Homo sapiens: one gene and its partners. The protein of the gene in region 1 interacts with the protein of each later gene in a biochemical or structural test. Each region holds a gene or a part of one and is shown in the gene's direction. Other genes may lie near its edges. The genes, in order: SLAMF7, SH2D1B, SH2D1A and DHCR24.

What was found.
Region 2: the proteins of SLAMF7 (region 1) and SH2D1B interact in a biophysical measurement, tested with the Homo sapiens proteins (one study listed by IntAct).
Region 3: the proteins of SLAMF7 (region 1) and SH2D1A interact in a biophysical measurement, tested with the Homo sapiens proteins (one study listed by IntAct).
Region 4: the proteins of SLAMF7 (region 1) and DHCR24 form a complex in vitro, tested with the Homo sapiens proteins (one study listed by BioGRID).

What each region holds. Positions count from the first base shown.
Region 1 is NC_000001.11:160,749,222-160,755,338, forward strand, and holds the end of SLAMF7 (SLAM family member 7 isoform a precursor), read left to right. Parts: intron 1-599; coding exon 600-872; coding exon of another isoform or gene 873-911; intron 912-1,082; coding exon 1,083-1,202; intron 1,203-2,123; coding exon 2,124-2,227; intron 2,228-2,964; coding exon 2,965-3,027; intron 3,028-3,884; coding exon 3,885-3,956; 3' UTR 3,957-5,600; downstream 5,601-6,117. UniProt on the Homo sapiens protein: Self-ligand receptor of the signaling lymphocytic activation molecule (SLAM) family.
Region 2 is NC_000001.11:162,402,119-162,409,160, reverse strand, and holds part of SH2D1B (SH2 domain-containing protein 1B), read left to right. Parts: intron 1-6,358; coding exon 6,359-6,422; intron 6,423-7,042. UniProt on the Homo sapiens protein: Cytoplasmic adapter regulating receptors of the signaling lymphocytic activation molecule (SLAM) family such as CD84, SLAMF1, LY9 and CD244. In SLAM signaling seems to cooperate with SH2D1A/SAP.
Region 3 is NC_000023.11:124,363,545-124,370,586, forward strand, and holds part of SH2D1A (SH2 domain-containing protein 1A), read left to right. Parts: intron 1-2,216; coding exon 2,217-2,280; intron 2,281-6,631; coding exon 6,632-6,776; intron 6,777-7,042.
Region 4 is NC_000001.11:54,884,196-54,891,002, reverse strand, and holds the start of DHCR24 (delta(24)-sterol reductase precursor), read left to right. Parts: upstream 1-3,807; 5' UTR 3,808-3,883; coding exon 3,884-4,114; intron 4,115-6,807. UniProt on the Homo sapiens protein: Catalyzes the reduction of the delta-24 double bond of sterol intermediates during cholesterol biosynthesis.

The sequences.
Region 1 (6,117 bases):
TAACTAGTCAGGGGAGGAAGAAAAAGGGCAAAACACATTTTAACTGCAACCTTTAACGTCTCAAACCCATGAGTAGAGAAAGGTAAATGATGAATGTCAGACTCTTACCATCTCACCAATGAACCAACTACTCATTCTCTGAGGCAGGGGAGTGAGCACAGAGTAGAGAAGGGGGCCAGAAGGGCTACTCCAACACAATTTTCTCCTAGAGAGTAAAGTGAACTCTCATAGAGAGTAAAGGGAAGCCTGAGGACAGAGACTAGGGAACCTCTAGAACAGATAATATTAGCGGACATCTAACATGCGTTATCACAGTGCTTGCCATGTGGCTATGCTTAGTAAATGACAGTTATATTCTTATTGCATTATTATTTCTATTATTTCTATTGTTGTTATTGTTATTATTATTATATAGCTATGGTAAAGCAGACCTAGGTAGTTCTCTTTTCCAGATACGAATGAGGATTCTGCTCTGAATTACTGCTTTCTCTCCAGTCTGGAGCTCCCAGGGAGATTCAGGTCCAAGGTATCCAAGGATAATTCAGAGAATGGAGAGCTATAGGCAGAGTTTCCACCTCTGGTTTTCCTTCCTCTCACAGAGCACCTGTCAAAGCCTAAAGTCACCATGGGTCTGCAGAGCAATAAGAATGGCACCTGTGTGACCAATCTGACATGCTGCATGGAACATGGGGAAGAGGATGTGATTTATACCTGGAAGGCCCTGGGGCAAGCAGCCAATGAGTCCCATAATGGGTCCATCCTCCCCATCTCCTGGAGATGGGGAGAAAGTGATATGACCTTCATCTGCGTTGCCAGGAACCCTGTCAGCAGAAACTTCTCAAGCCCCATCCTTGCCAGGAAGCTCTGTGAAGGTGACTGCCTCTCCCCTCTCCACAGGAGACTCTGCCCAGGTCCTACACCTTCTTCAGCTCCTAGCCCCCATGGGAACAGACACTGTATGGAAACTGGAGGCCGCTGGGTGGTCACCAGGCTGGGAGGAAGGTGGCAGGTGCTCCAAGACCTGGGTCGTTTTCCTGAGCTGACTTTTCTCCCTTCCCTGTGCCTCCACCCATTCTCTGAAGGTGCTGCTGATGACCCAGATTCCTCCATGGTCCTCCTGTGTCTCCTGTTGGTGCCCCTCCTGCTCAGTCTCTTTGTACTGGGGCTATTTCTTTGGTTTCTGAAGAGAGAGAGACAAGAAGGTAGAGCGTGTACTATTTTTGTCCTCACCCACATTCATGTTTTTCTCCTTCACTGATTCAACAAGCACATATAGAGCTGTGTGCCAGACTTGGCATGAGGTGTTGAAGATGCAGAGATGAAGAAGCCACAGTCTCTGCCCTCAAGAAGCATACAGTCAGCCTGTGCTCCTTAGTTCTGGAGTAGAGAAAGTGCTGGAGGTCTTTCCCAAGGACACGGTTCTCCCAGTTCCCTTTCCAGGGCTCACTTCTCTCCTTCTCCCAGAGGGACATCCTGATGTGGCTCTTCTGTTGATACAGGCCCCACACTGCTGACTCTGCTCCCCTGACCTGGGAGGTGATGGCCTCCAACTCTGAGGTCCCCACAGACCAGCATCCTCTAGTCAATCCTTCCTATCCCTGTCAGAGCCCACAAACCACCCACACCCTTTCCACAGGATCAACCCAAGACCTCGCTTTACTGCCCACTAGACACATGGCTCCTGGGGAAGCCTTTCCCTGTCTCTCTCCAGTTGCACCCCATCCTGTGTTCCTAAACCCTGCTGATTGGTCTTCTGGGCTCCCACTGTCCATGTGGGTGATGGGGAGGGACCTAACATCAGTTGGGTATGACTTGCAGACTTTGAAATCTCCCTTCCCTCCTGGAAGCCCCTCTGAAAGTGTCTTTGACTTTCTCTACTTCCCACTTTGACCACCTTGATGGAGAGATCAGGAAGTGAAATGTTGGGGGTGGCCAATTCATCCTGATTTGTTTAGATTTTCCCAGTTTTAACACTGAAAGTCCTCTATCCTGAAAACCCTTCCATTACAAGGAAACTCGGCTGGTTGGTCACCCTAAGTGGGTCATCCAGGAGAAATGGTGGGCCAGTGGAAGTGGTGAGTGGTTGGAGAGGTGGCTTTGATTCTCTCCCAACTTGCTTTTAGAGTACATTGAAGAGAAGAAGAGAGTGGACATTTGTCGGGAAACTCCTAACATATGCCCCCATTCTGGAGAGAACACAGAGTACGACACAATCCCTCACACTAATGTGAGTCCCTTCTCATCTTTCCTGAGAACTGATCCTGTCTCTGAGGCTCTCCTTGTGAGGTTTTTCCATGGGTTTGGACAACATGGGAATGAAGAGGGGAGTGAGGATATATAGACTTAAAACTCAATGCACCTGTGCCTCCTCCAAGTCTTCATGGATTCTCTTCTGTGCAGAAGAAGCTGGTGGTCTCTGGAGCACCTGGTTCTGACTCACAATGCTCATGCTGTGGTCTGTGAAATCACCTGCTCCCCTCCACAGTTCATAACGGCCACACAAAAGGCCAGATTCCTTTTGCATAAGGCAGTGGGTAGAAGAGTGTGACTTTGACAGGATGTTTGAATCATGGTATCAGAAGACTTCTCTAGAGATCTCTCTCTCTCTCTCTCTCTCTCTCTCTCTCTCTCTCTCTCTCTCTATATATATATATATATATATATATATATATATATATATACACACACATATATATATAATATTTTTGAAATTCATTTTAACACAGTACAGTTTAAAAATAATGTAATGGCTTCCTGAAAAAAGTTATCAAAATTTATTATAATAGCAGTCACCAACAAGAGAACTTCCTACCTCCCTTCCCTGTTCCAGAACCCTCCTTTTCCTCTCACATCTCCTCCCATCTCTGCTTTCCCCTCTCTGGATTCTGAATGTCTCTCTGGCCTTGTCTATGTGATTCAGGAGGTGGGTGATGATTTCTTTTGTTTGTTGTTTGTTTTTAAAAGAGAACAATCCTAAAGGAAGATCCAGCAAATACGGTTTACTCCACTGTGGAAATACCGAAAAAGGTAAGAAGCTTTAGAGCTTAACTTCATCTTAATGGTTCCATTTCTTTTCCTGCTTCATGTTTAGGTCAAAATTTCTTGGACCCAGGTATCTCATACTCTCTAGAATTAAAAAGTACCCTAGTAGTTCCCCATTCCCTTTGCTTAGGGTTATACAAGAACATGGGGGATGGAAGAGAATTGTGTTTTAGGAATCGAATTGGGTAATCTGGAACAAATAGAGTAGGACAGAGGTTCTAGATCGGAATAATAAAGAAAATCAAAAGCCTTCTGACTGAAGTTGCAGACAAGGAAAAAGACCATGGCTTAGATTGTGCATGGAATGAAGAGAGGAATAGCTGAGAGGAGAGTCCAGCTTTCTCCTGAGACACCAGGAAACTGCAGGAGGGAGAGATCTCTACTTTTCTCCCATGGTCCAGCTATGTTACATCTGCTTTGCACCCTCCCCTCAGTTAAACTACTAATGCAGTAGCTTTAAGGCTTATTCCTTCACAGAGTACGGTTGGCAGCAGTAATGGTATCTTTCTGTCTCCTTTTTCTTCCTCTCCCAAACAGATCCAAAAAGATAAGAATCATTAAAGCAGTTTGCTTAGTAATAGAAAAGGTTGGTTTAGTGAATTATTACAACTGAACAAGGAAAGTTCAGTTCATTAAGCATTCAGCAAGATAAATATGCGTTAAACTTACAGAATAGTTTCTCTAAGCTAGGGGTGATTAAAATCAAACAGTGGGAGCCAGCATGCCAGCCGATTTGGGTTGGGTAACCTTGGAAATAAAGTTTCCTGGATGTCAGGGTCTCCATGGACGATCCAGAGCCCTGCTCACCTCCCTCACTCTACTTTCTTTTTGTCTGTCTTCAGATGGAAAATCCCCACTCACTGCTCACGATGCCAGACACACCAAGGCTATTTGCCTATGAGAATGTTATCTAGACAGCAGTGCACTCCCCTAAGTCTCTGCTCAAAAAAAAAACAATTCTCGGCCCAAAGAAAACAATCAGAAGAATTCACTGATTTGACTAGAAACATCAAGGAAGAATGAAGAACGTTGACTTTTTTCCAGGATAAATTATCTCTGATGCTTCTTTAGATTTAAGAGTTCATAATTCCATCCACTGCTGAGAAATCTCCTCAAACCCAGAAGGTTTAATCACTTCATCCCAAAAATGGGATTGTGAATGTCAGCAAACCATAAAAAAAGTGCTTAGAAGTATTCCTATAAAAATGTAAATGCAAGGTCACACATATTAATGACAGCCTGTTGTATTAATGATGGCTCCAGGTCAGTGTCTGGAGTTTCATTCCATCCCAGGGCTTGGATGTCAGGATTATACCAAGAGTCTTGCTACCAGGAGGGCAAGAAGACCAAAACAGACAGACAAGTCCAGCAGAAGCAGATGCACCTGACAAAAATGGATGTATTAATTGGCTCTATAAACTATGTGCCCAGCACTATGCTGAGCTTACACTAATTGGTCAGACATGCTGTCTGCCCTCATGAAATTGGCTCCAAATGAATGAACTACTTTCATGAGCAGTTGTAGCAGGCCTGACCACAGATTCCCAGAGGGCCAGGTGTGGATCCACAGGACTTGAAGGTCAAAGTTCACAAAGATGAAGAATCAGGGTAGCTGACCATGTTTGGCAGATACTATAATGGAGACACAGAAGTGTGCATGGCCCAAGGACAAGGACCTCCAGCCAGGCTTCATTTATGCACTTGTGCTGCAAAAGAAAAGTCTAGGTTTTAAGGCTGTGCCAGAACCCATCCCAATAAAGAGACCGAGTCTGAAGTCACATTGTAAATCTAGTGTAGGAGACTTGGAGTCAGGCAGTGAGACTGGTGGGGCACGGGGGGCAGTGGGTACTTGTAAACCTTTAAAGATGGTTAATTCATTCAATAGATATTTATTAAGAACCTATGCGGCCCGGCATGGTGGCTCACACCTGTAATCCCAGCACTTTGGGAGGCCAAGGTGGGTGGGTCATCTGAGGTCAGGAGTTCAAGACCAGCCTGGCCAACATGGTGAAACCCCATCTCTACTAAAGATACAAAAATTTGCTGAGCGTGGTGGTGTGCACCTGTAATCCCAGCTACTCGAGAGGCCAAGGCATGAGAATCGCTTGAACCTGGGAGGTGGAGGTTGCAGTGAGCTGAGATGGCACCACTGCACTCCGGCCTAGGCAACGAGAGCAAAACTCCAATACAAACAAACAAACAAACACCTGTGCTAGGTCAGTCTGGCACGTAAGATGAACATCCCTACCAATACAGAGCTCACCATCTCTTATACTTAAGTGAAAAACATGGGGAAGGGGAAAGGGGAATGGCTGCTTTTGATATGTTCCCTGACACATATCTTGAATGGAGACCTCCCTACCAAGTGATGAAAGTGTTGAAAAACTTAATAACAAATGCTTGTTGGGCAAGAATGGGATTGAGGATTATCTTCTCTCAGAAAGGCATTGTGAAGGAATTGAGCCAGATCTCTCTCCCTACTGCAAAACCCTATTGTAGTAAAAAAGTCTTCTTTACTATCTTAATAAAACAGATATTGTGAGATTCACATACAAAAAGATGCATTATTTTGCTATTTGCAATAGTGAAATTCTGGAAACTGCCAAAGAAACTGACCACCACAGGTGAAGGTCTGTTCATACATAGACATTAAGAATTATGGGTTAGGCCGGGAGCAGTGGCTCACGCCTGTAATCCCAGCACTTTGGGAGGCCGAGGCAGGTGGATTACTTGAGGTCAGGAGTTCAAGAACAGCCTGGCCAACATGATGAAACCCCGTCTCTACTAAAAATACAAAAAATATTAGCCGGGCATGGTGGTGAGCCCCTGTAATCCCAGCTTCTTGGGAGGCAGAGGGAGGAGAATTGCTTGAACCCAGGACGGGGAGGTTGCAGTGAGCCAAGATCGCGCCACTGCACTCCAGCCTAGGCGACAGAGCAAGACTCCATCTCAAAAAAAGAATTATGGGTTATACTCAGCATCATGAAATATACCTGTGTAACCTACACATGTAGCTTCTGAATCAAAAATAAAATTAAAAATAACAAATTTTTAGCATGTGCCTGTGGTCCCAGC
Region 2 (7,042 bases), 1.7 Mb from region 1:
TATATGGTCAATATGGGATTCTCTTCCTTCCTTTCTTTCTTTTTTTTTTTTTTAGACAGGGTCTCACTCCAGCTCCTAGGCTGGAGTGCAGTGGTGCGATCATGGCTCACTGCAACCTCAACCTTCTGGGTTCAAGAGATTCTCCTGTCTCAGGCCCCCTGAGTATCTGGGACTACAGGTGCGCACTACCATGCCTGGTTAATGTTTAAATTTTTTGTAGACATGGGGTCTCGCTATGTTGCCCAGGCTGATTTCGAGCTCCTGGGCTCCAGTGATCCACCCACCTCAGCCTCCCAAAGTGCTGGGATTACAGGCATGAGCCACTGCACCCAGCCTATATTGGGATTCTCTTTGAAAATTGATATTTATTCTCAACTGTTCTGTGGTGCATCAGCCCATCTTGCATATTCATCTAAAGCAAAGGTCACTAAGAGATGCTAAAAAATGGGCCAGGCGTGGTGGCTCACACCTGTATTCCCAGCACTCTGGGAGGCCGAGGCGGGCAGATCACTAGGTCAAGAGATTGAGACCATCCTGGCCAACATGGTGAAACTCTGTCTCTACTAAAAATACAAAACTAATTAGCTGGGTGTGGTGGCATGCGCCTGTAGTCCCAGCTACTCAGGAGGCTGAGGCAGGAGAATTGCTTGAACCCAGGAGGCGGAGGTTGCAGTGAGCCAAGATCGCACCACTGCACTCCAGCCGGGTTACAGAGCGAGACTTGATCTCAAAAAAAAAAAAAAAAAGAAGAGAAAAAAAGAGAAGCTAAAAAATGAAAATAAACCAAGTGGAGAGGCAAAAATAAATATTTGTTAAGCCCCTGCACATGATCAGGTCTCACCCACCTCCCTACACATGTCACTGAAAGGCAAACAACATTTCATTCACCCTCAGGCTTAAGGCTTAGGTCAAGTGACCCCTGAAGCTATCTCCTCATAGGGCCTTGTAAAAATGTATTATCATACAGATAAGTATGGACTATTAAATTCTAGTTGTTCAACAAATATTTGAATTCTCTCATATGTCAGACAGTGTGCTAGACACTCGGTTGATGCCTTCAACACAACTCAGAGCCTAGTGGGGAAAATAAAGAAGTAAACAGACACAGTGATGCATGTGATAATTATGATGATTGGACTATCATTAGGGCACTGTAGAGCTGACAGCAAAAAGGGGAGAACCAGATATTGGAGCTGAGACTTTAGGAGAATAAGTGGAACCTTCATTCATTCAACAAGCATATACTGAGCACTTATTATGTTCCATGCGTGGTCCTAAGCATTGGTAATACAGTGATAAATACTACTGGCAATGTTTCTGCCCTCATGAAGTTAATTTCAGTAAGAGGAGAAAATATGATGAAAATGAAACAGAGTCATATGACAGGGAGAGACACAGCTGCTGCTTTCCATTGGGTACAGGAAAGGTTTCTCTGAAGAGGTCACATCAACCAATTCATGCTTCAAGATACAACCCTTTGCAAGCAAAGCAAGAATTACTATTATGATACAAGTGTTAGCCTGCTTGTCTTCACTGACACAGAAAAAGTTACCATGTAGGTATTATCTATGAGCCAAACATTTTGCTAAGCATGGTACATGCATTATCTTATTTGTCATTTGCAATCCCTTTGCGGTAGGCGACATGATCACTATTTTGTGAGAAAATAAACTGTAGCTTCTTATTTAATAGCTTGCCTAGGGCCAAATTGCTAATATGTTATTACATTCCCTCTCTTACCAATGTCCCCAGCTTCACTGAAATATGTTTCAGGTAATCACCTTGGATCTGTGTTATAAAATGCCCAAGCAGGGGACCTGAGGGCTTGGGAGTGGACTCTGATATGCAGTGTCCCCTTCTTCTCTGCTGCATTAAAATGGGTCTCCCCTGGACACCCAGCTTTAAAATTTCTCTGTTTTGTACTCTTTCCCTTTATTTCTTAGACTGGCCGACACTTAGGGAGAATAGAAAAGAACCTACGTTGAAATATTGGGGGCTGGTTCCCCCGATACTTCAGGACTTTCACAGAGCTAAATATTTAGTGATGAAAATACTGTGAGGAAGGTTAGAAATAAAAGAAGGAGGTCACAGAGAGAGCTGACCTAGCAGCATATGGCACTAACCAGAAAGCTATGTGGTAACTGTGGACAGGAAATGTTTTCTGATCTTACAATGTAATAGAGTGTCTAGAAAACTCCAGTGTGTAAAAGGTTGTCTGTGTAGTGTGACTTTGTGAGTGTCTAAACTGTCTGCCTTTATCATCAGTAAAATTAAATGGAGTAGATATTAGGAGGTGCAAAGGATTCATCTGCAAGTGTGAAGAAAAGGAGGACTTTGCAAAGCCATAGGAAGGCTGCAGGTGAGGAAGACCTGAGCCCTAACCTACTGCATGCTCTCATTAAGAATAATAATGGCAATGTCTATCTATTGCCTTGAGAGTCATTTATGAGTCTCAGATTCTGAGACTTTTGCAAGGATTGTAGAGTACAGAAAGAAAAGAAATGATCCATTTTGTTGTGGTGGTTTATCAAGCTAATGAAAATTCATTTTAGAAAATCAAATATAGAGAAAGGTATAAAAAACAAAACAAACTATATCAGTCTCACCACTCTGAAATCACCATTTTTAATATTTTGGCATACATCTCTCCAGACTTCTCTGCGCATCTATAAACCAATATATGTACATAAATGGTTCATTATACATGATGGCTTGCAACCTGTTTTCTCCATAATTGTAGGTCTCTTTCCCCATCAAAGAAAGCAGGTCATCCCCTTATGACTGCTTAGTATTTTATTGATTTGATATATCATAATGTATACATATCATACATTAGGTTATTTTCAATTTTCATTTGCAATTTAGTCCAGTGGACTCAGTGTAATTTGGAATGATTAACATTTTTGTACTTACATCTGTGAAAGTTTGCCTTACTCCCTAGTTAGGATAAAATCCTAGATGTTTAAAAAAATCTTCATGCACACTGAAAAATTAGTACCACAAAAGGTTGCACCAAGATACACTGAGATCAGGAACAGTGATAAGGCCAGAGGTCAAAAGTCTTAAAATATTTCTTTGTTGACTTGGATTTCCCACTTGCATCATGGCATGGAAAAATGCAGAACACATTGTTGATATTATAGGGTGCAGTCGATTCCATTTCCTTCAGCTGACCTTTTGAAGGTTAGTTAAAATAAAAACTTGAACACAAACAAGTTTCCCCACAACAATGGCCACAACATGAGACCGTGCTAATCTGTGGGCTGTTCATGCGTTGAGCAAGGACTCAGAGATCCGTGCACAGCACCTCATGGAACGATCACTTTGAAAGCTAAATAGATAGAGTAAAACAATTCAAAGATATGGGAAAACTTAGAGGTCCTGTATTCCAGCCTTTTTGAACCTCAACTGAGAAATTAATGCCTAAGATTTTTAAATGTTTTTTATAAGTCCAGTGTATTTCTCATAAATGACGACAACGATTTCCATAGAATAAACAAAAAGGTAGGCTCCACTGGGTATCAGTCTCACACAGAGAGTCAAGACACCACATATTTATTGAGAACATAACTGCAAAAATAGGAAACACTTTTTCTATCTGAGGCCAAAAACCAATCATGAAAACAGCAAAAGCACATATGTATAAGGAATTAAAATTTAGTTTATATATTAGAAAGATAAATTATATTCATCTACCTTTTTATGCCATGAATATGTCTTACTGCTTTATTGAGGTATCACTGACATAAAATAAAAAGTGTACAATTTGATGGATTTTGACATATGTATGTACACTTATGAAACGAACACAGCCAAGATAATGAACATATTTATCACCTCCAAAACTTCACTTGCACCCCTTTGTAATTTCTCATCAACATACCTCCCACCTATGCCCAGACTCTGGGCCACCACAAACTGCTTTCTGGCACTATAGATTAATGTGTATTTTTCCAGAATTTAATGTAAATCAAATCATAGAGTATGTAGTCATTTTTATCTGACTTCTTTTATTCGGAATAATTATTTTGAGATCCATCTATGTGGTTGCATGCAGCAATAGTTCATTTTTTTGCATTGCTGAATAGTGCTCCATTGTAGGGATGCATCCCAAATTGCTTACTCATTTATAGCTATTACAGCTAAAGTTGCTATGAATATTTGTGACTAAGTCTTTGTGTGGGTGTATGCTTTCATTTCTCCTGGGTAAATAATCAGGATTGGAACAGCTAAGTTGTGTGTTCTATGTAGGCTTATCTTTTTTAAGAAACTGCCAAACTGTTTCCCAAAGTGATCATGCGATCTCACTATTCCCATGGGCATTACATGAGTTCTGATTGCTCTACATCCTTACCAACATGTGGAACGGTCAGTCTTTTACATTTTAACTGTATTAATAAGTGTGTAGTGGTATCTCATTGTGAGTTGAATCTGCGTTTCACTAATGACTAATGATACTGGGTATCTTTACGAGTGCTTATTTGCCATCCATGTATTTTCTTTTCTTTTTTTATTGAGGTTCAACAGCAGATTTTACTTTTTTTATTTTTAAAAACTTAAGTCTAATTCAAGTAAAATAAGCTGTACATATTTAAAGTATACAATCTAATTCATTTTATTTTATTTGATAGATAAAATTATATGTACTTATTTTGTACAATGTGATGTTTTAAAATATATATACGTTGTGGAATGACTAAATCTAGCTAATTAACATATGCATTACCTCATCAAGTTATCATTTTTGTAGTGAGAAAACTTAAAATATCCTCTCAGCATTTTTCAAAAATATAATATATGGTTATTATTTTATTTTATTTTTTTTGAGATGGAGTCTCACTCTGTCACCCAGGCTGGAGTGCAGTGGCACCATCTCGGCTCACTGCAGCCTCCACCTCCTGTGTTCAAGCTATTCTCCTGTCTCAGCCGCCTGAGTACTTGGGATTACAGGTGCCTGCCACCACACCCAGCAAATTTTTGTATTTTTAGTAGAGACAGGGTTTCACCATGTTGGCCAGGCTGGTCTTGAATTCCTGACCTTAGGTGATCCACCCACCTTGGCCTCCCAAAGTGCTAGGATTATAGGCCTGAGCCACTGTGCCCTGCCTAAGAACGTAATATATGGTTATTAACTATAGTCATCATGTTGTACAATAGATCTCTTGTTTAACTGAAATTTTGTATCCTTTGACCAATATCTCCCTAATCCTCCCCCTCTCACTGACAAGGCCTGAGAACTCTCATTCTACTCTTTAGTTTTATGATATCAACTTTTTTTAGATGCCACGTATGAGTGAGACCATGTGGTATTTTTCTTTCTGTGCCTGGCTTATTTCAGTTAGGATAACATCCTCCAGATTTATCCATGTTGTTGCAAGTAACAGGATTTTATTTTTCTATGGCTGAATAATATTCCATTGTGTGTGTGTGTGTGTGTGTGTGTGTGTGTGTGTGTGTGTAACTTTCTTCATTCATCTATTAATCAAGTTAGGTTGATTCCATGTCTTGGCTATTGTGACTAATATTGCAATAAAAGTGGGAGTGCAGATATTTCTTCAACATACTAGATTCATTTCCATTGGATATATACACAGTAGTGAGGTTATATAGTAATTACATATATATATATATATATATATATATATATATTTTTTTTTTTTTTTTTTTTTTTTCAGACAGAGTCTCGCTCTGTCGCCCAGGCTGGAGTGCAGTGGCATGATCTTGGCTCACTGCAACCTCCGCCTCCTGGGTTCAAGCGATTCTCGTGCCTCAGCCTCTCGAGTAGCTGGGATTACAGGCATACGCCACCACACCCAGCTAATTTTTGTATTTTTAGTAGAGACGTGGTTTCACTATGTTGGCCAGGCTGGTCTGAAACTCCTGACCTCGTGATCTGCCCTCCTCAGCCTCCCAAAGTGTTGGGATTACAGGCGTGAGCCACGGCACCCGGCCAGTAATTCTATTTTTAATTTTTTGAGGAACCTCCATACTGTTTTCCATATGGCTATACTAATTTACATTCCCATCAGCATTGTACAAGGGTTTTCCTTTCTCTATATCCTTTGTCTTTTTTGATAATAGCCATTCTAACGGGCATGATGGTGGGTGCCTGTAATCCCAGCTACGCAGGAGGCTGAGGCAGGAGAATCGCTTGAACCCGGGAGGCGGAGGTTGCAGTGAGCTGAGATCGCACCACTGCACTCCAGCCTGGGCGACAGAGTGATATTCCGTCCCAGAAAAAAAAAAAGAGTTTTTTTAGGATTGTAGATTAACAAAGGTATTGCATATGAAACATAACGATAGATGTTACCTGGATTTGCATAGAACATTTTGATTCACACAGTCATTTTTTCCACAGGTTTAAAAATATTGTCTACACATACCGAATCTTCAGAGAGAAACACGGGTATTACAGGATACAGGTAAGAACAAAAAGGACGACAACAACAACAACACAAAAGTTGGGGGAGAAGAACCTGGGAACATGTCTTTTACCTGAGCCATGACTGTGCGAAAGCATTCTAAAAAGGAAAGCACAATGCAGAGATGAGAGTCAGATCGAGTTAACCTGGTTTTTCCCTGAAGAGAAATAGGAAGGTTCTAGGCTTGGGTTCTACTTTTTTTGTTGTTGTTTTGTTTTTTTTAGACGGAGTCTCGCTCTGTCGTCCAGGCTGGAGTGCAGTGGTGCGATCTCGGCTCACTGCAACCTCCGCCTCCCGGGTTCAAGCGATTCTCCTGCCTCAGCCCCCGCCCCCCCAAGTAGCTGGGACTACAGGCGCGCGCCACCACCCCCAGCTAATTTTTGTATTTTCAGTAGAGAAGGGTTTTCGCCGTGTTAGACAGGATGGTCTCGATCTCCTGACCTTGTGATCCGCCGGCCTCAGCCTCCCAGACTGCTGGGATTACAGGCGTGAGCCACCGCACCCAGCTGGGTTCTACTTTTGAATAACCCTCACTGTTATTCCACTGTGGCTCCTCCACTGGCCAAACACACCAGCCTGGACTCCAAGCAAAACCTCCGTTGAATTAGAAGACTCAACAA
Region 3 (7,042 bases), on another chromosome or scaffold:
ATGTATTTGTGATGACACTGGTATAAACAAACCGACTGTGCTGTCAGCTGTATAATAGTATAGCACAGGCCAGGTGTGATGGCTCGCACCTATAATCCCAGCACTGTGGGAGGCTGAGGTGGGTGGATCACCTGAGGTCAGGAGTTCAAGACCAGCCTGACCAATATGGTGAAATTCTGTCTCTACTAAAAATACAAAAATTAGCCAGCCATGGTGGCATGCACCTGTAGCCTCAGCTACTCGGGAGGCTGAAACAGAATTGCTTGAACCCGGGAGGCGGAGGTTGCAGTGAGCTGAGATTGCACCACTGCACTCCAGCCTGGGCAACAGAGCGAGACTCTATCTCAAAAAAAAAAAAAAAAAAAAAAAAAAGAAAGAAAAAGAAAAAGAAAAAAATGTATAGCACAGACAATTACATACAGTACACAATACTTGATAATGATAACAAATTACTGTGTTACTGGTTTATGTATTTACTGTACTATACATTTTATCATTATTTTAAAATCTACTCCTACTTATATAAAAAAAAGTTAGCTGTAAAACAGCCTCGGGCAGGTCCCTCAGGAGGTATTCCAGAAGGCATTCTGGAATATGAATATCATAGGAGATGACAGCTCCGTGTGTGTGACTGCACCTGAAGATCCTGCAGTGGGATAAGATGTGGAGGTGGAAGACAGTGATACTGATGATCCTGACCCTCTCTGTAGGCCTAGGCTAATGTGCGTATTTGTGTTTTAGTTTTTAACAAAAAAGTTTAAATAGCAAAGAATACATAAAATAAAAATTTTGAAACAGAGAAAAGCTTATGGAATAAGGATATAAAGAAAAACAGTTTTGTACAGCTGTACAATGTGTTTGTGTTTTAAGCGAAGTGTTATAAAAGAGTCAAAAAGTTTAAAAAAATTTACAAGTTTATAAAGTAAAAGAGTTGAAGCTAAGATTAATTTATTATTGAAGCGATACAGTTTTTTTTTTTTGAGACAATCTCGCTCCGTCACCCAGGCTGGAGTGCAGTGGCGTGATCTCGTCTCACTGCAACCTCCGCCTCCTGAGTTCAAGCGATTCTCCTGCCTCAGTGCCTCAGCCTCCCAAGTAGCTGGGACTACAGGTGCGTGCCACCATGCCTGGCTAAGTTTTTGTATTTTTAGTAGAGATGGGGTTTCGTTGTGTTAACCAGGATGGTCTCGATCTCCTGACCTCGTGATCTGGGAAATATAAATATTTTAAAATAAATTTAGTGTAGCCTAAGTTTACAGTGTTCATAACATTCTAGTAGTGTAATGTCCTAGGCCTTCACATTCACTCACCACTCACTCATTGACTCACCCAGAGCAATTTCCAGTCCTGCAAGCTCCATTCATGGTAAGTACTCTCAACAGGTATAGCATTCTTTATCTTTTATACTATATTTTACTGTGCCTTTTCTATGTTTAGATAGGTTTAGATACACAAATACCATTATGTTACAATTGCATACAGTATTCTGTACAGTAACATGCTGTACAGGTTTGTAGCCTGGAGTAATAGGCTATACCACATAGCCTAGGTGGTATACCATATAGGTTTGTGTAAGTACAGTCTATGATGTTTGCACAACAACGAAATCACCTAATGATGCACTTCTCATAATGTATCCCCCTTGGTAAGTGATGCATGACTGTGGCAATATTATATTGCTATACATTATAATAGTAATTTTATAAAAATATAGTTATATTCAATTTATAGTATTATATCCTTATACTATTGCCATTATATTTATAACAAATATTATTAATATTAATAATTATTTATGTGGGCCTGATAGTGTATTATCCCAGTGAAATGTTTTCACCTTAAGTTTCGATATGTACTTAAAAATAAGTCTATTGTTTGTTAAAACTATCTAATAATTCATGGTTTTATCAATTACAACAGGTCCCTGTTGTAGTTTCTTTCTGTCCAAATGGTCTCTCAACTTGACAAATCTTTAGGAGCATGAATTTCCATATTTCAAAAAATGAAAAGATAAAGAAATCTCACTGGAAACTGTGGTTGGGCAGATACAATATGGAGACAAGTTAGATTCACTATGCTTTACTTCCTATGAATGCAATGACACCATATACGTGTGTCCTAGTATATGTGACATTTATATGTAATATTAAGCTCAAATTTAAAGTATCCATTGTTCTTTTGGAATCTTTCAGTAATGGAAGTTTATTCTTTCACAGGTATCACGGTTACATTTATACATACCGAGTGTCCCAGACAGAAACAGGTTCTTGGAGTGCTGAGGTATAGTTGTATTTATTTTTGCTTCTGGGGGTGTCAAGGAGGTATTTGAAATTTAGGCTGGTTTTATAAAAGAGCAAATTATACATTATTAAGTATTCATAAGGTTTAAATCTCTAAAGCTCCAATCCAAAATTGTTCATGGATCATTAAGAAAGCTTTAGAGAATTTTGGTCCCAGTCCTGTTTAGCCATCATTTTGCAGAGTTGTATGACTTTGGGAGAAAGATAAAAAAGTTGAAGAATTATGTCAAACTTTTAGTGACTATGTGAAATCTTAGCATATCAAAAGTAGGTAAAATAATTAAATGAACAATTATTTACCAAATGATACCAATATGAGTATTGGTATCGTGGGAGATTAAAAAACATGATGCTTATTTTCTAAGAGACTACAATATACTTGGGAAGTTATAACTTGAAATTAAACAGTTATGAGTGGAAGAAACTAGGCTTTGTCAACAGGTGAATCTGGGTTCCAGGTCTGGTCTCCCCTCCTCTCTGATAGGTCTATGATCTTGGGCAGGTTACTTGACTTTTCTGTGAGCCAGTTTCTTCATTTGTAAACGGAGCCTAAGAATCCTCCCTTATGCACAAGGCTCAATTTGAAAAGTAAATAAGATAACACACATAAAGAAGCTGTTTGCCACAAGGCCTGGCACACAGTGAGCCCTCAAAAAAGTGAACTCCTGAAAATTGCCACAACTCCTATTAATAACTCAATCTGTGCATTTAAAATTTTCTGAAGTCTAGACTTCAAGAAGTTAAAATAGCTCTCACGTTTACTGATTTATCAGTAAGTTGGAAAGTATAAATTACAGACCACAAATGTTTTGAACCACTGAGATGAATTAGGCCAAGTTTTCAAACACACTTTTGCTGTATTATGTAAGGATCATTAAAACTATAATACTAACTAAAGATAAAGTTATACCATTTCTAATTGAAACTATTTATACCTGTTTATTTAAAAAATTCTCTGTATCACTGCAGAGATGATTGAATAAGAAATTAAACTTTATTATGAAGAAAGTTATGTGTAAAATATACTGACAAACACACACACACACACACACACACACACACACACACACACACACGTTTGTATATTATTTCGCCAGAAATAGCTCTTCTCCCCAGAGAAATACCCTTCAGCTGCTGAAGAATATTATGTAAGGAAAGGATCTTAAATGCTTAGGGTTTAACAACTTTGTTTTTCAACTTGTTTTCCTGCATTTTGAGTATAACATCATATGAGATTGTTACATGCTTGTGATCATGTTAAAGAAGAGAGGGCTTATTGAACACAAATGCCCCCTCATCCTGTTGTCTGATCTGACGTTGTTTATGTAATAATATTGTAATTTTCTGCACCAAGAGAGCAGAAGATTGGCATGACATCCGCAAATAGAAAATAGTTTAAAAAATTCTTTAATTTTTGAAATGCATATTGCATTTTTTTCTATCTACTAAATTTACCTTCTTAGCAGTGCTTTTCTAAGGTGAAAATTAAACTAGTGTATATTCTCAGAGCTCATACCACCTGACTGGAAAAAATTTCTCTAGAGCATATTGAAGACCAGCTGTGATCTAATACATGTTTCCATGGATAACTAAGAGGTGACAGTATGGGAGATTTGCAAATTTGAAGAATAGCTGAGTTCAGTGACAGGATGAGAGTTGTCAGTGGTACAATTCTTGTGATAAATGTATTTTCGAAACTGGGTAAATGATAGATATTAATACTGATTTTTGGAACAATGTTTTAGTTTGCCATGCTGCAGGAAAAATCAAGGCAGTAGCATGCCACCATCTGTGCATATATTATGCTAGAAATCTAGGTAAGTGAGATTTGTTTTAAAGAGTGTAATGAAATCAAACCCTGGCCCCACTGAATTATGAAAGACAGATATCATGTGTTTTTCTAGTTTTAGAGAGACTTTTAGGTTAAATCTTTGCCTAGTGTATTATCTTATATGACTCAGACTAAAAGTTTGTTACATTGTTAATTTAGATAATTCCACAATCTACTTTCATTTATTAATATGTGATTTGTTGGCAATACATTATTAAAAATGTACTGACATCACCCTGTTGACATCAGTGTCTTCAGGCTTTACTGGGTATATGATCAGGAGATCAGCAGATGTTAAATAATTGTCCTTATTAATCTAAGTAAAACACTGTAAAATAGGCCAGTCATTTGCTTATGAAACATCAGATCCCCAATTCAAATAGCTTCCATACTTCCAGTGCTATTATTCATTTCTGTTAGCATGGATAATCAAGTGTTAGCTACATATCAGTACCCATAAAAATGTTGCTTCTCTGTTTTGTTTTGTTTTGAGACAGAGTCTCACTCTGTCGCTCAGGCTGGAGTGGTGGAATGGCCCGATCTCGGCTCACTGTAACCTCTGCCTCCCAGGTTCAAGTGAGTCCTGTGCCTCAGCTTCCCAAGTAGCCGGGATTGCCACCACACCTGGCTAATTTTCATATTTTTAGTAAAGCCAGGCTTTCACCATGTTGCCCAGGCTGGTCTTGAACTCCTGACTTCAGGTGGTCCGCCGGTCTCAGCCTCCCAAAATGCTGGGATTACAGGTGTGAGCCACTGTGCCCGGCTATGCTTCTGTTGATAAATGACTTTACAAGCCACAAGAAGCTAAAAAGATGTGTGGTTTGAAATCTTTCCACACTTTAGGTGTGTATAGTTTTTCTTCTGTTTGATGACCCTAGCTTCGCTAGATCCTGTTTGGCCCAGTTCTAATCTGAAAGGCAAGAGACTGGGTCCTGGGATTCTGAGCCAGTTCTGCCTCTGGTTGTCTGTGTGACTTTGGGCAAGCTGATTAATTTCTTTGCATTCATATTTTCTTATCTGTCAAATGGGAATAACTGAATCAGCCAATAACTGCCATTTTGTGAGGAAATAGTGAAGGCAAGAGATAGGAATGTGCTTTGAAAATGAAAAAGTGCACTGAGGAAAGTATAAGGAGGCAATTTGTGCCTATGACCTGCATTTGCAATTTGGAGACTCTATCTTGGAACCAACGAACTGTTTGGACTTCTGCAAGAATGGCCATGTTATTTTGGATGAGTTCTCAATCGAGCTTTAGGAAGGTGGAGGGTAGGTGAGAGAGTGGGGTGGAGCTGGGTGAGAGAGTGTTCTACATCTACTGTGAACATATGGGGGAACACTAATATAGAGCTAAAAAGAATTTTTGTCATGTTTTCAATGAAAAATTACCCCAACATAAGGAAATGACTGAGAGTTACTATGGATAGTGTAGTATGCTATCTTCAGCATACCACTATCTAGCTGACAGAAGTCTTCATGCTCGCCTTCATGTTTTCTCATTAAATGCTAAAAAAACAAACAGCTCCCACCTCAAAAATCTACCAGATGGAATAGCTGAAAAACAACTTAAAAAAAAAACTAGTCATTGTTCAATTGCTCATAGCAATACTATTTTATTTTACGTAAAATGACAGGTTTGAGCTGATGCCTGAAGCTTGGCTCATAAGCTTTTGCAGGAAATTGTTGTTGATTTCAGGCAGTGTCTTTGCAAGACAACTGATGTCAGGAAAGGAACACATTTTAATAGTCACCTGCAAATAACTGTCTCTTTAAAAACACACAAATAAATAAATAAAGGTGACCTTATATAGTCTTTCATTTTCATGTCATAGAGAAAACCTTGTTACAGTGACGTGCTGATGGAGAGAACAATTTTGGGAGTATAGGGAAGTTTCCCAAGGAGGAAAAAATTTAATGTGAAGAATGGCGCAGGAAATATTGTGAGGTGAAAGAGTATGAGGACTGAACTAGCCGTGCACTGTGTGCATCATAACAGCCAATTTTTAATTTCCTGTGTAGCATTTTATATTGTGGGATGATGGCAGGGAGGATGGGTTGTTGGTTTTTCTTTTGTTGTTGTTCCTCAGGCTTTTTATTAATGACCTGTAGGATCTGTTTTTTTGTTTTTGTTTTTGTTTTTTCCTGTTTAACTGCATCCCCTCTGTTGGTGAATTCATTGTGGGTAATGGCCTGTATACCCTTAGAGGTTTGAGATGTCTGATGGGGAGCAGGCAGGAAGGGCAGGGCAATGAGCAAGAGCTTGTACAAACTAATACCACCTTTGGGAGAACTGAAATGACAGCTCATTAGCTCCTCTTGCAGGGAAATTCAGCCAACCAAAGTAAGCTCTTCTGGAATGTTGTTTTTCCTTCTTCCTTATGTTTTCAAATATTTCAACAAGTTACACAAATGTTACTTCTCTTAGCATCCCTAGCACATTTTGTAGGTCTTTTTGTATCATTATGAGATAGGTAAATAATTTGCTTGGCCTTTTATTTTCCAGACAGCACCTGGGGTACATAAAAGATATTTCCGGAAAATAAAAAATCTCATTTCAGCATTTCAGAAGCCAGATCAAGGCATTGTAATACCTCTGCAGTATCCAGTTGAGAAGAAGTCCTCAGCTAGAAGTACACAAGGTACTACAGGTATGATTTCCTCTTAATTTTTGACAGGGTTTGGAAGCTCAGAGTTATGAGTCAACCTGTTCATAACCATATAATCAATTAGAAGTTATGTAAGAAAAATGCAGTGAGAAAGTAGATGTAGCCAGCAAGTCAAATGAGAGGTGACAATTTATGTGCTATAATTTTCATCTATTATTCTAATAACTTTTAATAAATCTCTGTAAAAACATCAAAAATTCTATAAGCCCATAACATTTTAACTGCTCTTGTCTGTCTCATCTTGTTCT
Region 4 (6,807 bases), about 110 Mb from region 1:
TGTCTCAGCCTCCTGAGTAGCTGGGACTACAGGCACCCGCCACCACACCCAGCTAATTTTTTGTATTTTTAGTAGAGATGGGGTTTCACCACATTAGCCAGGATGGTCTTGATCTCCTGACCTTGTGATCTTCCCGCCTCAGCCTCCCAAAGTGCTGGGATTACAGGCGTGAGCCACCGCACCTGGCCAAACAAAGGTAATATTCTTAAAGAAGTTCCAGGATTAATACTCAGTCCAATCTCCTAAATTTTAGCATGCATAAGAATAACGTAGCTGACTTCTTAAAAAGTAGATTTCTGGCCCCACTTCTGGAGATTTAGCTTCAGTGGGATATGGTAGAGTCTAGGACTCTGCATTTTAGCAAGCATTCTGATGTAGTTGGTCTACAAACCACACTTCAACAAACCCTGTTCTAAAACTTCTACTTCATATCTATGGAACGGAACCACATGAATGGCTCCCAACTTCTGGATCTTTCCATCATTTGAATCTGCTCCCTTGATTATTGTGTGAAGTGTAGTTTGCAGACCAACTGCATTAGAATTCTCTATTCACCAGAATAAGACATTGATCAGGTAAGTCACTTAACCTGAGTCTAAATGTCCCCATTTATTTAAAAAAAAATACATATTAATTCCCTGCATTGCCACTCCTGAGACTGGTTGCAAAGATCAAATGATCTCAGTAGCTGCACTGTACAAATATAAGAAAATGCAATTTGTTAGGACTCTGGTATTTATCATGCTCCTTTACTGAAGAAAAAAAAAACTGTTCTTTACACTCTATTTATTAAGAAAGAAATAGAGGCTCACATTGTAGAAAGATTGCTACGTGGTCAAACTATAAAAGGGGTTTACCTAGTTAACCTGAAAAGTTCTTGCCCAGAACATCCTATTCCTAAGCATTCTGACTGTCTGCATGCTCCATCAACTCTGTAAGTAATGTATAATATGAATAGATTCCCTGACAAAGGAAGCTGCTTTGACTCCAGCAAAAATTAGTAGGTCCAAGGTTATATATCATATGATTCCATTCATATGACCTTCTGGAAAAAAAACAAAACTATAGTGACAGAACAGGGCAATGATTGCCAGGGGCTAGGAGGTAGGGGAGAGTATGACTACAAAGGGGCAGCAGAGGGAGTTTTTTGGGGTGGTGGAACTATTCTGTATCCTCATTGTGGTAGTAGTTACAGGAATCCTCATCATGCTAAAATTCATCAGCTGTACAAAGATTAAGCAGTTTTACTATATGTTAACTTAAAAAATTAATTAATTGATTGGCTCAACTCAAGTGACTGCTTTCCTTACCTGGATAAAAGCAACCCAAAGGATTAGAGTTTGGGGAGACAGAAAAGAAGAATCAGAAATATGAGGAGGGTAGGCAGGAAGAGAGAATGAGAAACGTGCACACTGAATAAACAATTGTTCTGAGTACTTTTTCACTTTTTTGTTGTTGAGACAGCCTGTTGCTAACACTAGTATGCAGTGGCGTGATCATGGCTCACTGCAGCCTTGACCTCCCAGGCTCAAGTGATCGGTCCTCCCACCTCAACCTCCTGAGTAGTTGAGACTACAAGTGCATGCCACAATGCCCAGCTTTTTTTTTTATTCTTTTTTTTTTTTTTTTAGAGACAGGGTCTTGCTATGTTGCCCAGGCTTGTCTTGAATTCTTGGGCTCAAGCAATCTGCCCCTCTTGGCCTCTCAAAGTGCTGAGATTACAGGCATGAACCACCACACCCAGCCTGAGTACTTTTTTATTCCTTTCCTTTTTTGGGAGTTGTTTCCTAAAGATCAGTTGTATCTACTTTCTGGGACTCCATCCTTCTCTTCCCAAGTATAAAACTATTCTGATTAACCAGTAATTTCCACTGTTTCTCCTACACAACACTCTTCAGTTAATTTTTAGGTAAATTTTACTTTCCAGATTACCTCACACCCCCAAAATAATCAGAATGGTTAAGCTTCTAAAGCAAAGCCCTCTTTAACAGAGTCAGACAGAATCGGGGAGAGGCATTTTTCACATTGGCTTTCCTCTTCATACTTCACTGTCCCCCTGTTGGTTGGAGCTTCTAGAGATGTAATACAAGACAAATCTGTAATTTTAAATTTTCTAGTAGCCACCTTAAAAAAGTAAATAAAACAGGTGAAATTAATTCTAATACTATATTTTACTTAATATATCAAAATGTTATTTCAACATGTCATTAACATAAAAATTACTAATGAGCTATTTTGCATTTTTTCTTTGTACTAAGTCTTTGAAATCCAGTGTGTGTTTTACTCTTAAAGGGCATTTCAGTTTGGACTAGCCACATACCAGTAGCTCATAGCTGTTGTGTAAGACAGTACAGGTCCAGGCTATTTATTTTTGAAGTCCAGTGCAAACAACCTCTCATTCTTTGCACTTTGATAACTTGAATATTTGAGCCTACAATCTTCATTCATTCATTGGTCAACAGCCGCTGGAGTGTTTACTGTGCACAAAGCACCGTGCTAGAAGCTGGAAGGACAAAAGTGAACAAGACATTGTTTGCCCTAAGGCTCAGTCTGTGGGGGTGAGAGACACATAAAGAGACAATTATAAAATAACATGAAAGAACGGTGACAGAGATGCACACTATTTAATGAGCATCTGGATGGGCAGGGGAGTGCTCTAAATGTTTCAGAGGTGGCCCTGAGCTGGCTTCGGAATGTGTGAGGTGAACTCTGAGAAGGGGATGGGAAAGGGCATTCAGAGGTACTAGCTTGACCAGAGGCGCGCAAATGAGGAATGCTGAGGCCCAGGGAGCCTCCTGAGTGCATGTCAGGGCAGAGATGAATGGAGAGGGAACTGGATAGGTATGCAAGGCCAGACAGAGAAGAACCTGGTATGTCATGTTTAGCTTCTAAACTAAAACATCTCGAAAACTTCCTAAAATTCCATATGAAATGCAAATGGCGCTGGATTTCAGCTTTTGCTGGTAACCGTGGCAGCTCCCCTACACTGGTTGCTGAGTGAGGGCAGGGCCATCTGCTTTGCTCACCACCCTACCCGAGGCTTGCAACACTGCCTGGCACAGAGCGGGCCTGGGGAGTTTACTCGGGCTGAAATGCCTTCCTTCATTCTTTCTCCTCCGGGCCTCCCATCTGCCTCAGTGAACTGGAAAAAGAGGAAGAGTGCCAGCCATAGCCTTCCATGCTTCCAATGGCCTCTGGAGTTCACGAACAGGTCTTCACCTTTCTGGGCTGCTTCCAAGTGTACACAATGGAGCTCACCACTCCCCACTGCCCAGGACTGCTGTGTAGCTCAAATGAATTCGTGGAAAGTGCCCCCTAAAAATGAAAAGATGCCTCTGGAGACCTTGCGCACACCGAGTGGCACGACCTGCAGAGGTTACCGCCAGGTTTCCATCCTCCGCGCCCGGGAACCGCCTGTCCGGCCAAAGGGTGACTGACTCAGGGCCGGGGCGCCTCCCAGCCCTCCGGCGGAAAGCCACTGCAAAACCGCTTAAGGCGCGTTTGGAAGAGGCGGCCCCGCAGCCCCGAGGGCCTGGGGCCCTGAGTCCCAACTGCCCACCCCCAGTATTCGCAGCGGACCCCACCGGCACCCAGTCCCTGGCACCCCCGCCTCGCGCGGCGGCGGGGAGAAAAGGGTGGAGCGGTCCGACTCCCGCAGCCAATGAAAGCTGCGGGTTCCTGGTCCGATCCCCGGCGCGGCTCGCCATTGGTCGCCGCCCGGGTCTCGGCCCACCGAACCTCGGCGACCCGAGCCAATCGCGAGGCGGCGGGCGATCCCGGGCTCCCCGGGCTGTGGGCTACAGGCGCAGAGCGGGCCAGGCGCGGAGCTGGCGGCAGTGACAGGAGGCGCGAACCCGCAGCGCTTACCGCGCGGCGCCGCACCATGGAGCCCGCCGTGTCGCTGGCCGTGTGCGCGCTGCTCTTCCTGCTGTGGGTGCGCCTGAAGGGGCTGGAGTTCGTGCTCATCCACCAGCGCTGGGTGTTCGTGTGCCTCTTCCTCCTGCCGCTCTCGCTTATCTTCGATATCTACTACTACGTGCGCGCCTGGGTGGTGTTCAAGCTCAGCAGCGCTCCGCGCCTGCACGAGCAGCGCGTGCGGGACATCCAGAAGCAGGTGAGCGGCGCCGGGTGCGGCCGGGACTCAGGGCCGGAGGCGGCGTGCGCGGGGATAGCGGGACGCGAGGTGGCGACGGGAGCTGCGGTGCGGGGGCGGCCAGGACTTCCTGGGGGGGTGGGGAGCTGGCGTTGGAGAGGGGTTGGAACGAAACAAAAATGTGATGGGGGCGGGGGAACAGAACAGGCAAAGTGCCCACTGTGTGCAGGGCATATGCGGGTACCTGGAGGGAGATGAAGAAGGGGAAGAGGGGGAGGTGCGAAGCACTCAGGTAACTCTCACCCGGCCCAAGCATTTCAGAGAAGGAAAGGCTTCCGGGAGGTGGAGCTGGGTCTAGAGATTGGGAAGTATGGGAAATGATTGGGGGAAGGTGTGTGGGTGGAGGGACTGGTGTGAGCAAATGCTGGGAAGCCGACAAGTGCAGGGCAGGGGCGGGAGAACGTCGGAAAAGTCCGTTTGGTGCTAGGCTGGAGAGGGGCCTTGATGCCAAGGCCGAGTTTGGACTTTATTTTGTACAGCAAGACGCTTTTGATTGGGTTTAGGATAGAAGACTAAAGCAAGAAGGTAGAACCCAGCCCAGAAGCGGGAGGGAAGAACCTCACAGCCTCTGCTGACGGAGGGCTCACTCCTTGACAAAGGCAGTCGGTCCATCTCTCAGTTCCTCAGGCACCCACGGAGCCTGTGACCTGCTGTGGCTCACAGTGGAGCCTCCTCTGCATCCAGGGACTTGGGCAGTTTCTTGACTCCCTCTGCTTCTCTTTATGTTCCTCTCTTGTTGGCATCAGGTTGCAGAGAGCTTCTGTTTCCTGCTGCCACCCTTCCGTAGGTGTAGCAGCCTCCATATTCTGCTTGCTCCGCGCTGGGTGCTTCAGGCAAGAGCATGAAGATGGATGCGGAGAGACGTTCCCATGAGGCATAAGACCTGGGGCCTGGTGGGAGAACGCAGTGTCTGGAAGTGCTTTGCCCTGTAGCTCTGGATTTTGCTGGTCACAGTCATGGCTCCAGAGCCTCTGCGTGTCCTCCCTCCCCACCTGCACCCTGTTTCCTAGCTCTTTTCTCGAGTTCAAATTCTCCATTTACCTGCTTGTCTCCCCTGTCAGACTGTGAGCTCCTAGAATGCAGGGACTGTTATGTGACTCGCCTGTGGCCCATAGGGCCTGGCTCAAAACAGCCTAGCGAGTGCCTATTAATCTTGGCTAAGCCACAAGATTCACTGTGAGCAGGAAAACAGGGGCCCAGCTGGACTAGCCTCTACCCCAGACCTGCCATGTGCCATTGCCATCCTCACAGCAACCCTGGTAGATCTTGTGCCTATCTTACAAACAGGGAAAATTGAGTTTCAGAGTGTGAGTCATGTGCTCAGGAAGACTAGTCAGTAAATGGGGCTAGAACCTAGGTTAGCTCGATTTCAGAGCCTGAACTCTGACATTTCTTCTTTCCCAGGCTTTCCCTTCCCCCCTATAGGTCTGGTTCAGTTGCCTCACACCTGGCTTGTAATAGCTGTCTGACCTAGTTGCCCTTTTTTCTGGGCTCTCTGTTTGGCCTCCAGCTTCAGTGCAGCACCCCTAATCACTCCCTCCCATCTCTGGGCTTGTGTCAAACTCCGTGGCTGCAGATTCAGGCAGGGACGAGACCTGGTTGGTCGTGGAATCCTACCTATCATCCCTTTTCCCCCAAATCACAGGAATCTCTTCCTTAATACCTGCCCTGGCCTCTGATCAAAGAAAAGTCCTTCCCCGTGTTGAGCTGTTTGCCTAGCCAGCTCCAGTGCAGCCTTCTCCAGGAGACCTGACCAGTATTTGACCAGACTTTTGGTTGCAAGTGAAAGAAGCTCAATTCAAACTGACTTGAGCAAAAAGGGATTTTATTGGCTCAGGTCCTGAAAAGTCTGGGAGTACAACTGGATCAGGCATGGCTGGATCCAGGATCCTCTGTCCCCCATCTCCATCTGTCCATCCCTCTGCCATCTGTTGGCCCTGCTTTTCTAGGTTGACTTCATTCTCTGGAGCCTCTCTCCCTGCAGAGGCCCCAACAGTTTCTGGCTCATATCCAACCGGCTTAGCGACCCCAGTAAAGAGAGAGTGGCTGTCCTGGAACTGGTCTCATTGGCTTGACTTAATGAGATGTCATTAATCTGTCTCTGGCCAGAAGTATAGAATCAGTCCTCAGTCATGTACCCACCTCCTGGGGTAGGGGAGTAGAATCAGTCTCACTTGGACCAAAGGAAGATGGGGATTGTTAGAAGTGGATGAAGAGGAAATGGATGGTCACAGGTCAAAATGACAAATATCCACCCCCCCTGCACTTGTCTATCTCAGCAGAAAAGAAACACTTCCTCCTGCATTTCTGATGGGCTTGTCATCCATGGGCCATTTGTTCTGTGTTTTGTGCTCTGGTCACTTACCTTAGAGGTTTTGTAAAACCTCTTCCTTCCATTGGCTTGGTGGTCCTTCCCTGCTCCTCCTCTTCCCCTCAAAGTGATGCATGAGTTAACATATACAAATGTTTAAACAGGCCTTGGCATGTGATAAGCCTCCATACGTGTTAGCTATTACCCTGTGAACTGTTACCACAACTCCATCTATCTTTCCTGTCCTGAAGTCAAACAGTCCTGGCTATGAATCTCAGCTCTGCCATTTACCAATTGTGTGACTTTGGACAAGTTATTTTGCTTTTGAGTTTCCTTATCCTCG